2 separate regions of the Homo sapiens genome follow, and region 2 is linked to region 1. Evidence: fine-mapped expression QTL. A gene starts in region 1. The other region holds a variant in brackets. All regions are shown on one strand. Distances are from middle to middle.

Evidence for each region. PIP is the estimated chance that this variant, and not a neighbour inherited with it, causes the effect. A credible set is the group of variants that fine-mapping cannot tell apart.
Region 2: its variant is the best candidate, but not a certain one, in a credible set for the expression of ABHD12 in monocytes (TOPMed, PIP 0.57).

The regions. Positions count from the first base shown.
Region 1 is chr20:25,387,729-25,393,098 of GRCh38, reverse strand. It overlaps ABHD12 (abhydrolase domain containing 12, lysophospholipase), which reads left to right and starts at 2,264. Exons shown (of 13, transcript NM_001042472.3): 1 at 2,264-2,586. The coding sequence starts at 2,396. RefSeq lists silencers at 2,135-2,554, 2,595-2,644, 2,685-2,844, 3,015-3,174.
Region 2 is chr20:25,233,658-25,239,027 of GRCh38, reverse strand. It overlaps LOC105372579 (a long non-coding RNA gene), which reads left to right. Exons shown (of 3, transcript XR_001754564.3): 1 at 1-3,890. Among named protein-coding and RNA genes, the nearest start is that of PYGB, 12 kb to the left of the region's middle. RefSeq lists enhancers at 901-1,195, 401-1,600, 925-1,701. The variant G/C (reference allele first, on the strand shown) is at 2,465.

The DNA.
Region 1 (5,370 bases):
TTTTTTACGTTTTAGTTATTTCCTAGATTTCCAATCTCTCCAGGATGTGTTACTACATCACTATAAAGAATTTATAATTTACATTCCATAGTATGTTTGTTTGTTTATTTTGAGATGGAGTCCTGCTCTGTCACCCAGGCTAGAGTGCAGTGGTGCAATCTCGGCTCACTGCAACCTCCGAATCCCAGCATCCCGGGTTCAAGCAATTCTCCTGCCTCAGCCTCCCAAGTAGATGGGATTACAGGCGTGCGCCACCACACCCAGCTAATTTTTTTGTTTGTTTGTTTTTGAGAGGAGTCTCCCTCTGTCGCCAGGCTGGAGTGCAGTGGCACAATTTCGGCTCACCACAACCTCCGACTCCCTGGTTCAAGCGATTCTCCTGCCTCAGCTTCCCAAGTAGCTGGGAATACAGGCACGCGCCACCATGCCCAGCTAATTTTTTTTTTTTTTTTTGAGACAGAAGTTTGCTTTTGTCCCCAAGACTGGGGTGCAATGGTGTGATCTCAGCTCACTGCAACCTCCGCCTCCCAAGTTCAAGCGATTCTCCTGCCTCAGCCTCCCAATTAGCTGGGATTATAGGGTTGTGCCACCATACCTGGCTAATTTTTGTGTTTTTAGTAGAGACGGGGTTTCACTACATTGGCCAGGATAGCCTCAATCTCCTGACCTCGTGATCCGCCCGCCTCGGCCTCCCAAAGTGCTGGGCTCACAGGCGTGAGACACCTCGCCCAGCCTTTTTTTTTTTTTTTTTTTTAAACAGAGTCTTGCTCTGTCACCCAGGCTTGTGCCACCACACCCGGCTAATTTTTGTATTTTTAGTAGAGACGGAGTTTCACCATGCTGGCCAGGCTGATCTGGCCTCCATCTCCTGTGCTTAAATGATCCACCCACCTCCGCCTCCCAAAGTGCTGAGATTACAGGCATGAGCCACTGAGCTCGGCCCATAATGTTTTTAAAAAGTATATCTGGAGATATTGACACAATTATGAATGCAGGCTGTAACACTTAGTAATATGGTCAATAAATTATTTTGCAATTTCAAAGTATCATTACAAAACTAATTTAAAAAGCAGCCGGGCGCGGTGGCTCATGCCTGTAATCCCAGCACTTTGGGAGGCCGAGGCGGGCGGATCACGGGATCGAGAGATCGAGACCATCCTGGCTACACAGTGAAACCCTGTCTCTACTAAAAATACAAAAAAATTAGCCGGGCATGGTAGCCGGCGCCTGTAGTCCCAGCTACTTGGGAGGCTGAGGCAGGAGACTGGCGTGAACCTGGGAGGCGGAGTTTGCAGTGAGCCGAGATCGCGCCACTGCACTCCAGCCTGGGCGAGAGCGAGACTCCGTCTCAAAAAAAAAAAAAAAAAAAAAGAAAAAACTAATATAAAAAGCTGTTGAATTTCTAAACGCATTTCCAATTGACCTTTATCAATTGCCAATAGTTTTCAAAGTGACAAATGCTGAAATTTCTAACGTTACTTTGGAATAAGCAAATATCTCTCTTTGTTATAGATCATCTGTAAAACTAATGCCATATTGAAGAAAGCCAAAGTTATAAAACTAAATTTGTGAAACAGCCCTTTATTCTTTCCTTTTCTCTTTCTAGGATGGGTTGAATTAGTACTAAATTTGGGTTTCATAAGGGCGAATTTATCTTTGAAATGGATTTTCCTCCCATCAGGTAGTCTTAATTGCTTTATAAAAATCTAAAATCTAACACAGGTTTTTAAAAAGTAAATTTTTCAAGCAGTTCATTTCCTGATGTTCGGCCCAAAAGTAAACACTGAGTATATACATTTACTTCAAATTAAAAACTGACGACCGGAAAGCATACTTTTAAAGGTAATGTCCTTGTGGAAAAAGAATTAAGAATCACGAGAACGGAACTGCTATTTGCTACCTCTGGTTTTCCGTTCACAGAAGCACGAGGAGCCCAGCGCTGCGGCTCTGCCTCGCTGGGCCACCCCTTTCGGGCACGACCGGGAGCGGGTGCTCCTCACACCGAGCGCCCGGGCGAGCACAGCTGCAGCCTGCGGATGGAGCCCAGAGCCCTGCCCTGCAGATGACGCGCCGCTGCAGCTTCGCCCACCCTCCCACAAAATGGCTGCGGGTGGCGCCAGGGATGCTGGGCGCGCGCTCCTTGGAACTAGAGAGGAGGTGGCCGGGGCGGGGCCGGGGGAGGGGGGTAGGGCAGAGCCGGCGGGAGCCCGGCGCTGATTGGCCGGCCTGGCTGGCGGGCCCCCGCCGCTGGTTCGTAGCCGGCGCAGCGGCCTGGGCTGGGATGTGAGGAGCGGCGGGTTCCGGGCTCCGGGCTCTGGGTGGCGGCGGCTGTGAGCGGCGGCACTGCGGCGCAGGCCAGCGGGCGCCGTCGGCGGCTGGCCCTGTCGGCCGCGGGATGAGGAAGCGGACCGAGCCCGTCGCCTTGGAGCATGAGCGCTGCGCCGCCGCGGGCTCGTCCTCCTCCGGCTCGGCCGCCGCGGCGCTGGACGCCGACTGCCGCCTGAAGCAGAACCTACGCCTGACGGGCCCGGCGGCGGCTGAGCCGCGCTGCGCAGCCGACGCGGGAATGAAGCGGGCGCTGGGCAGGTGAGGCTTCGCGCGGAGCGGGGGGGGGGGGGGGGCCGGTCCCTCACTTTGCGCAGGTGCGTCCCGCAGGGGGCCGCGGTACCTCCCAGCCCCTCCCAGAGTGGCCGTCCGCCCGATCCGCGGCCGCCCCCGTCCGCGCCTGTGTCCCGCATTTGGCCCGCGGCAGCCCCACCCCCGCTCCCTTCCCCAGGCACCGCGGCGGGAGCGCCCTGCCCTGCCGCTGACCCCCTGTGTCCTGCTCCGGCCCTCTCGCCAGGCACTCCTGGCCTAGCCTTGCACCCCGACCCTTTCCCGGGGAAGCCGGGGGGACCCTTACGCTGGGGGCTTGGCGCCGCCCGAAGTCATGACCCCGCGTGGGAGAGCAGGGTAGGGGGTGGGGAGTCCTTGGAAGATCCCTGGACGCCAGGCACAGCAGAGGCGGGAGGCAGAGGGGCCGGCGCCAGACCCTGAGAGCGCTGGGGCCCACTCGGACCTCCTCCTCCTGCTCTGCATCAGGCCCCACACCGAGCGCCCGGGCGGGCGCCCCTCGGGCTGGGCTGCGTGCGCGGAGCCTTACTGGCGCCTTGGGCCCTCGGCGGCTCTCCCCGGTAACTAGGGTCGGGGGCGTGCGTCGCTCAGAACTCGGGGACCTTTGGGGAAGGGCTCAGTGGGCGGCGGGGTGCTAGGGGAAGGAGGGACTCGGAGCATCGCAGCCGTCGGAGGGAAACCTGCCCTTCGCTCTGCTGGTGATGGTTCGTGGTACTTGAAATCTGTCCGCACAAGTTCGCCTCCTTGGGAATCATCTCGCAGTCCTGAGTCGTTTGGTTATTGGCGTTCAATAACCTTTGGGTTATTGGGTAGAAGATGAATGCGTTTATATAAAGCCACTTTCAAAACTGAGATGGGAACGTGTTTCATAGGGACAGATTTCTCCTCCCATCTGCTGGTTTCCTAATTATCTGGCTGTTGTAGAACGTAGCATTCCTGACAGCTTTGAAGCCTTGCTACTTCGTGGTGGTTTGAAGAAGTTACTATATGATGATCTCAGGCGTTGTAGCAGAGGCACTTCTTTTTTGACCATCTGGAATGCCCTTAGTTGACGCTGGCCACTTGAGTGTAAAATATGCGTATCGCTCCTAAGGAAAAGTAGAATTTCAACTTCATTGCTTAAAAAAATCATGAAATTAAACTATAGACACTTCTAAGTCGATGGTTTGACAGAAGGGCGGAGACTGATAGTTTTGTGTCTTTATGTGTAAAATTATGTAGCATCTGATCAATATCTTTTGTGAAACTAATCTGTTCTCTTTGCTATGGAAAGATTTATCTGCATTAAAAACTCATGATTTAACTTTAATACAATTTTATTAACAGACATGGCATAACGCTTAGATAAATTGGAAAATTCTTCCTTCGAAAAAATCAAATTGCCGGGCGCGGTGGCTCACGCCTGTAATGCCAGCACTCTGGGAGACCGAGGCGGGCAGATTATCAGAGGTCAGGAGTTCGAGACCAGCTTGACCAACATGGAGAAACCCCGTCTGTACTAAAAATACAAAATTAGCCGGGCGTGGTGGCGCATATGCCTGTAATCCCAGCTACTCGGGAGGCTGAGGCGGGAGAATCGCTTGAATCTGGGAGGCGGAGGTTGCGGTGAGCCAAGATCTCGCCGAACCGAGATCGCACCAGTGCACTCCAGCCTGGACAACAAGAACGGAACTCCGTCTCAAAAAAAAAAAAAAAAAAGAAAAAATCAAATTGTTTTACACAACGTTTGGGGAAACAGCGGCGACCTGGCACCTTCTTGAAGAATGTACTGTATTAAAATTACCCGATTAATTTTTATTTTCGTGTCAGGACAAAGAGAGACATTCCAGTGGTGTCCATATCCTTTGGATAAGCAAAAGGCTGTTAGGGGTAAAAAGCAAAACAAAGGGAAAGAAGACCAAATTTGTTAGGTTGTCTTCCTTCCCAGCTGGCTGTCTCAGACATCCTTGAGCTTTCTTCTCTTCCTCGCTCAGGCTCTGCGCCACCATCACCTCCTCCTCACTGAGGCCTTCTTAGACCAGCCCACTCCTGTCGACCTTGTTATCACTCGAGATTGTAATTTTTGCTCGTGTGCCTCCCCCGCAACCAGAATGGAAGCGCCATGAGAACAGGAGCTTTGTTTTCTCCACTTAAGTATCTCCAGTACCTGGCACGTAGTAGGTAGCAGAAAATACTTGTTGAATGAACAAATATCCATAGAACAGATATCCATTGCGCCACAGAGCCGGCTCGTTTGTGTCTTTTATGATCCTTCTTTGGATCCTTCCGCACATTTTTTAAACTCTTTATTGTCGACATACGTGGAAGTAGAGAAGACAATCTAATGAGCCTTCTTCATGTGTCCATCACTTAAAAGTTTTCAGTGTTTAGCCAATTTTGAATCATCCATCCCTCTTCTCTTTTTTTTTGTAGGATGAAGGATTGGATTTTTTTTTTTTTTTTTTTTTGAGAAGGAGTCTCGCTTTGTCGCCCAGGCTGGAGTGCAGTGGCAATCTCGGCTCACTGCAACCTCCACCTCCCAGGTTCAAGCAATTCTCCTGCCCCAGCCTCCTGAGTAGCTGGGATTACAGGCGCCCGTCACCGTGCCTGGCTAACTTTTGTAGTTTTAGTAGAGACGGGGTTTCACCATGTTGGCCAGGCTGGTCTCGAACTCGTGACCTCGTGATCCACCCACCTCGGCCTCCCAAATTGCTGGGATTACAGGCGTGAGCCACAGCGCCCGGCCTGGAATATTTTTAAACAATTTTTTTTTTAAGA
Region 2 (5,370 bases), 150 kb after region 1:
CCAATTAAACCTCTTTTCTTTATAAATTACCCAGTCTCAAGTATTTAGAGCAATGCAAAAATGGACTACTACAACCTCACGGTTCTGGAGGCTGAAAAGTCTAAGGATGGAGTGTCCTTCTCAGTGTGCAGTCAAGATGCCGGCAGGTTTGGGGCCTGGTGAGGCTCTTTGCTTCTTCCATGGTGTCTTTTGCACGGTGCGTCCTCCGGAGGGGAGGAAGGCTGCATGCTTACATGGCAGAAGGTGAAAAGCCAAGAGAGAACCCACTCCCAAAGCCCTCTCAGTAAGGCATTAAACCCACCATAAGGGTGCAGCTCTCATGGCTTAATCGCCTCTTAAAGGCGCCACCTCCCAATACCATTACACCAGCAATCGAAATTCAACACGAGTTCTGGAGGGGAAGGCATTCAAACCCTTGCCCCTTCTCTGAACCGGTGGGACTTGCCCAGCATGCCAGACTGCCTGGGCTCTGACTCCTTCCTCAGCCTGTGTCACTACGGCCCACAGTTGCATCAAAGCATGCTGCTCTCCATCTCCAGACTCCCAGCCTGGCATTTCCAATATTCTCCCCTTTCACAGCCCCTCAAATCCAAATCCTACAGCAAATGCCGGAGATTCTATTTCAGTCCTTTCTTGTCAGGACTGACAGTGTCAGCTGGAGCCCCTGTCCTTTGGGACACCTGTGAAATGGTCCTGAACACCTCAAGTTGGACCCCCTCAATATCAGTTTGGGGGTGTCCCTGATGTCACCCACTAACCCTAATGTGCTTCTCAGCGCCTTCAGTTTCCACATCAACACAACTCCTTATAGGTTAGTACAATCCCTTTGAAAAACTGGCAGTGTTCACTGAACAAATGCCTCCCTATGACCCAGCAATTCTACTCCAAAGAAAACACCCAACAGAAATGAATACTTATGCTCACCCCAAGGCAAGTACAAGAACGTTCAGAACAGCCCTATTCAGAACAGTCCCAAACTGGAAATGATGCAAACGTCTGTCATCACTGGAATGGATAAATACACTGTGGCATATTCACACCAACACAAGGATGAGTCACCTACGACTTCGCTCTCCCACATGGATGAGTAATGCTGTGTGAGGGACCAGCCCAAAAGAGCACATCCTGTTCCCCAAAGCCCTCAGGCGTCAGACCTCTACCCTGTTAGGAAGGACAGTGGCTGAACCTCCCGCTGCATGCAACTGGAGGGGCTGTGAGGAGTGGGGTCTGGAGAAGCTCTTCATTGCAGTCTGGTGTATGCAAGTGTGACAGTGTACTATGGGCACACTTGGCAACCACCACCTGTGGGCAGCATCTGTGGGTGTGACAGACCTCCCTGGACCTGGGCCATGGGCCTGCGGGGTCCCACATCCCACGGTCATGGGCCGTCCACCATCTTCCTCCCTACCTTATCTAATGCCTCCTGGCCCTCCCCACACCCAACAGGGCTCTAGGTCCTTCGTTAAGGCCAGTGGTACCAGCGACACCCAGGCCTTCTCCACAAGCTACAAGGAATCTGCCCAGCAGCCAGTCTTCCCAGGAGGAGGCCGGGGGCCACCGGCTCAGGACTTGCCTTGCATTTTTTTTTTTTTTGGCATGATCTAGGCTCATTGCGACCTCCACCTCCCAGGTTCAAGCGGTTCTCCTGCCTCAGCTTCCTGAGTAGCTGGAATTGCAGGCACCCACCACTGCACCTGGCTAATTTTTTGTATTTTTAGTAGAGACGGGGTTTCATCATGTTGGCCAGGCTGGTCTCAAACTCCTGACCTCAGGTGATCCACCCACCTCAGCCTCCCAAAGTGCAGGGATTACAGGCATGAGCCACCGCGCCCAGCCATTGTGTTTTGTTCCTTGTGGGGATGCACATCCCTCTTCCAACCTGTGGCTACTGCTCTTGGGGTCCTGTTGCTGGGGGCCCTGCAGTAGACTCCACACAGGTCCTCCTGCCTCCTGGGCCCTCCTCAGAGCCTCCACAGGCTGCAGACTCCACTCCCCAGATGGAGGTCTGAGCCCGGCACCCTTCCTGCAAACCACTACCTCACAAAAAAGACAAGAATCCTACACCCCCAACCCAGACCCCTTCCTGGCAGGTCCTCAGGCTGGGCATGGGCAGAGCAAAGACAGACTTGAGGAGGTAACCAGGGTGAAGGCAAACACTGGGCCAAAACCAGTGGGCATCCTGATGTGTGGATTCCAAAGGGACCAGGCGAGCAGGGAGCAGTACTGATGTCAGGGAGGCCGGAGGGAGACAGAGGAAGCCCGTAATCAGGGAGCTTGGGAGCTGCCTGCTGGGCAGGGAGGAGCTGTGGACACCAATCGGGCACTCTCAAGCCCTTCCCAGCCTGGCTGTCTCCCTCCTCTGGCCCTTCGGTGTTTCCCTTGGGAGTGGTGTGGGTCCCTACCTGGACTCATCCTGAGGAAGCTGCCTCCTGGAGCAGGCAGGATGCTGGAGCTCCGTGTGGCC[G/C]GCCCTGGTTCTCTGCGAAGCCGCTCCTGAGAGCCTGCCTAGTGCAGAAGTGCCCCGAGCTGGCTGCTCTTCCTGCCTAAAACGGGGCACTGAGCACAGGAGCCTCTGGATCTGATCCCCTGCCTGTTTTTGTACGGCTCTCAAGCTAGGAATACCTTTTACATTTTTAAATGATTGAAAAAAAAATCCAAGTAATCATGGTGTTAAAATGATATGAAATTTGAATTTCAGTGTCCATAAATCAAGTTGGGACACAGCTTCTCTCATTCATTTACAGTTGTCTAAGTTTCTGTCACTCTTCGGCAGCAGAGGTGAGCAGCCAAAACAGAGACTGCATGGCCTGCAAAGCCTGAAATATTTACCGGCTGCTCTTTACAGAAAGAGTTGGCCGTTCACTACCCTGGAGTGTGGACCTCTGGGCGAGGAACCTGTATCCGTAGCGCTGCCTTGCACGTCCAGGCTCACAGGTGAGTCCTCAGGAAGGAGTCCCGTTGGTTCTCTATGCAGCATGCCAGGCAACAGGGTGCTTGGGAGGGGAGGCAGGCTGGCCTGGGCAGGAGGATTCTTGGAGGCTCCTTTAAAATTCACTGCCTCACTCAGGGTGATGCACATTAAAACTCCATGGAGCCAGGTGTGGTGGCATGCACCTGTAGTTCCAGCTACTCCGAAGCTGAGGTGGGAGAATCACTTGAGCTCAGGAGTTTGAGTCCAGCCTGGGCAACTTAGTGAGACCCTATCTGTTCAAAAAATGACAACAGCATAATAGGACAGCAGTACTCCCCCCAGAACAGTTAATATTAAAATTACGGACAGTACCAAGTGCTAGCATGGATGTGGAGCAACTGGAATCCTCACACACTGCTAATGGGAGAGTAAAATGTTACAGCCATGTTGGTAGGTTTTTTTTTTTTGGAGACGGAGTTTCGCTCTGTCGCCCAGGCTGGAGTGCAGTGGCACCATCTCAGCTCACTGCAAGCTCTGCTTACCAGGTTCACACCATTCTCCTGCCTCAGCCTCCCGAGCAGCTCGGACTACAGGCGCCCGCCACCACGCCCAGCTAATTTTTTTGTATTTTTAGTAGAGACGTGGTTTCACTGTGTTAGCCAGGATGGTCTCGATATGCTGACCTCGTGATCCGCCCACCTCAGCCTCCCAAAGTGCTGGGATTACAGGCGTGAGGCACCGCGCCCGGCCATTAGTAGGTTCTTATAACCGGTTATAACTGGTTGGTAGGTTCTTATAAAGTTAAACATTCACATGACATATGACCCAGCCATTCTGCCTTTAGATATTCATCCAAAAGAAATAAAAATATATGCCTATAAAAGCCTTGCACAAGAATGGACACAGAAGACTTATTCATTAAAGCTCCAAAGAGGAAACGGCCCAGGGGAATATCAACAGGCAAATGAAGAAACAAAGTGTGGTATGTTGAAATAATTGATTACTATTCAACAATGAAAAGGAATGAGCTGCATGCATCCACCTGCATGAATCTCACAAACATCATGCTTAGCTGAAGACCAGACACACAAGAGCAGACACTGGATGATGCCATTTACATAATGTTCCAGAACGGGTGACAGTAATACGTCATGACGGACATCAGATAGGGGCTGCTAGAGTCCAGGGGCAGGGTACTCTCAGAGTTTTCTGGGGTAATAGCAATGTTCTCTATTTTGATGGGGGTGTGAGCCACATGGGTGCATGCATTTGCCAAAATGATTTGAACTGTACACCTAAGATCTGTGTGTCCTATTATGTGAGGAAAAGAGAGATCAGATTGTTACTGTGTCTGTGTAGAAAGAAGTAGACATAGGAGACTCCATTTTGTTCTGTACTAAGAAAAATTCTTCTGCCTTGAGATTCTGTTAATCTGTAACCTTACCCCCAACTCTGTGCTCCTTGAAACATGTGCTGTGTCAACTCAGGGTTAAATGGATTAAGGGCTGTGCAAGATGTGCTTTGTTAAACAGATGCTTGAAGGCAGCATGCTCCTTAAGAGTCATCACCACTCCCTAATCTCAAGTATCCAGGGACACAAAACACTGGGGAAGGCCGCAGGGACCTCTGCCTAGGAAAGCCAGGTATTGTCCAAGGTTTCTCCCCATGTGATAGCCTGAGATATGGCCTCATGGGAAGGGAAAGACCTGACCATCCCCCAGCCCGACACCCATAAAGGGTCTGTGCTGAGGAGGATTAGTAAAAGAGGAAAGAACGCCTCTTTGCAGTTGAGACAAGAGGAAGGCATCTGTCTCCTGCTCGTCCCTGGGCAATGGAATGTCTTGGTGTAAAACCCGATTGTATAGTCCATCTACTGAGATAGGGGAAAACCGCCTTAGGGCTGGAGGTGGGACATGAGGGCAGCAATACTGCTTTTTAAGGCATTGAGATGTTTATGTGTATGTATATCTAAAGCACAGCACTTAATTCTTTACCTTGTTCATGATGCAGAGACCATTGTTCACGTGTTTACCTGCTGACCTTCTCTCCACTATTATCCTATGACCCTGCCACATCCCCCTCTCCGAGAAACACCCAAGAATGATCAATAAATACTAAGGGAACTCAGAGGCTGGTGGGATCTTCCGTATGCTGAACGCTGGTCCCCTGGGCCCCCTTTTTTCTTTCTCTCTACTTTGTCTCTGTGTCTCTTTCTTTTCCAAGTCTCTTGTTCCACCTAATGAGAAACACCCACAGGTGTGGAGGGGCAACCCACCCCTTCACTATTATATGAAAATGATACCTCAATAATAAAATATTCTTAGAAAAACATTCACTAGGTCAAGGTAAAACCCAGAGAGAGCTAGTGACTCAAGACCCCATCAGGCAGGGGATGTGGCCACTCTGGGCCTCACAGCAGCAGGAGGAATTCCAGTGGAGGCTTTAAGCCCAGTGTGATTTGT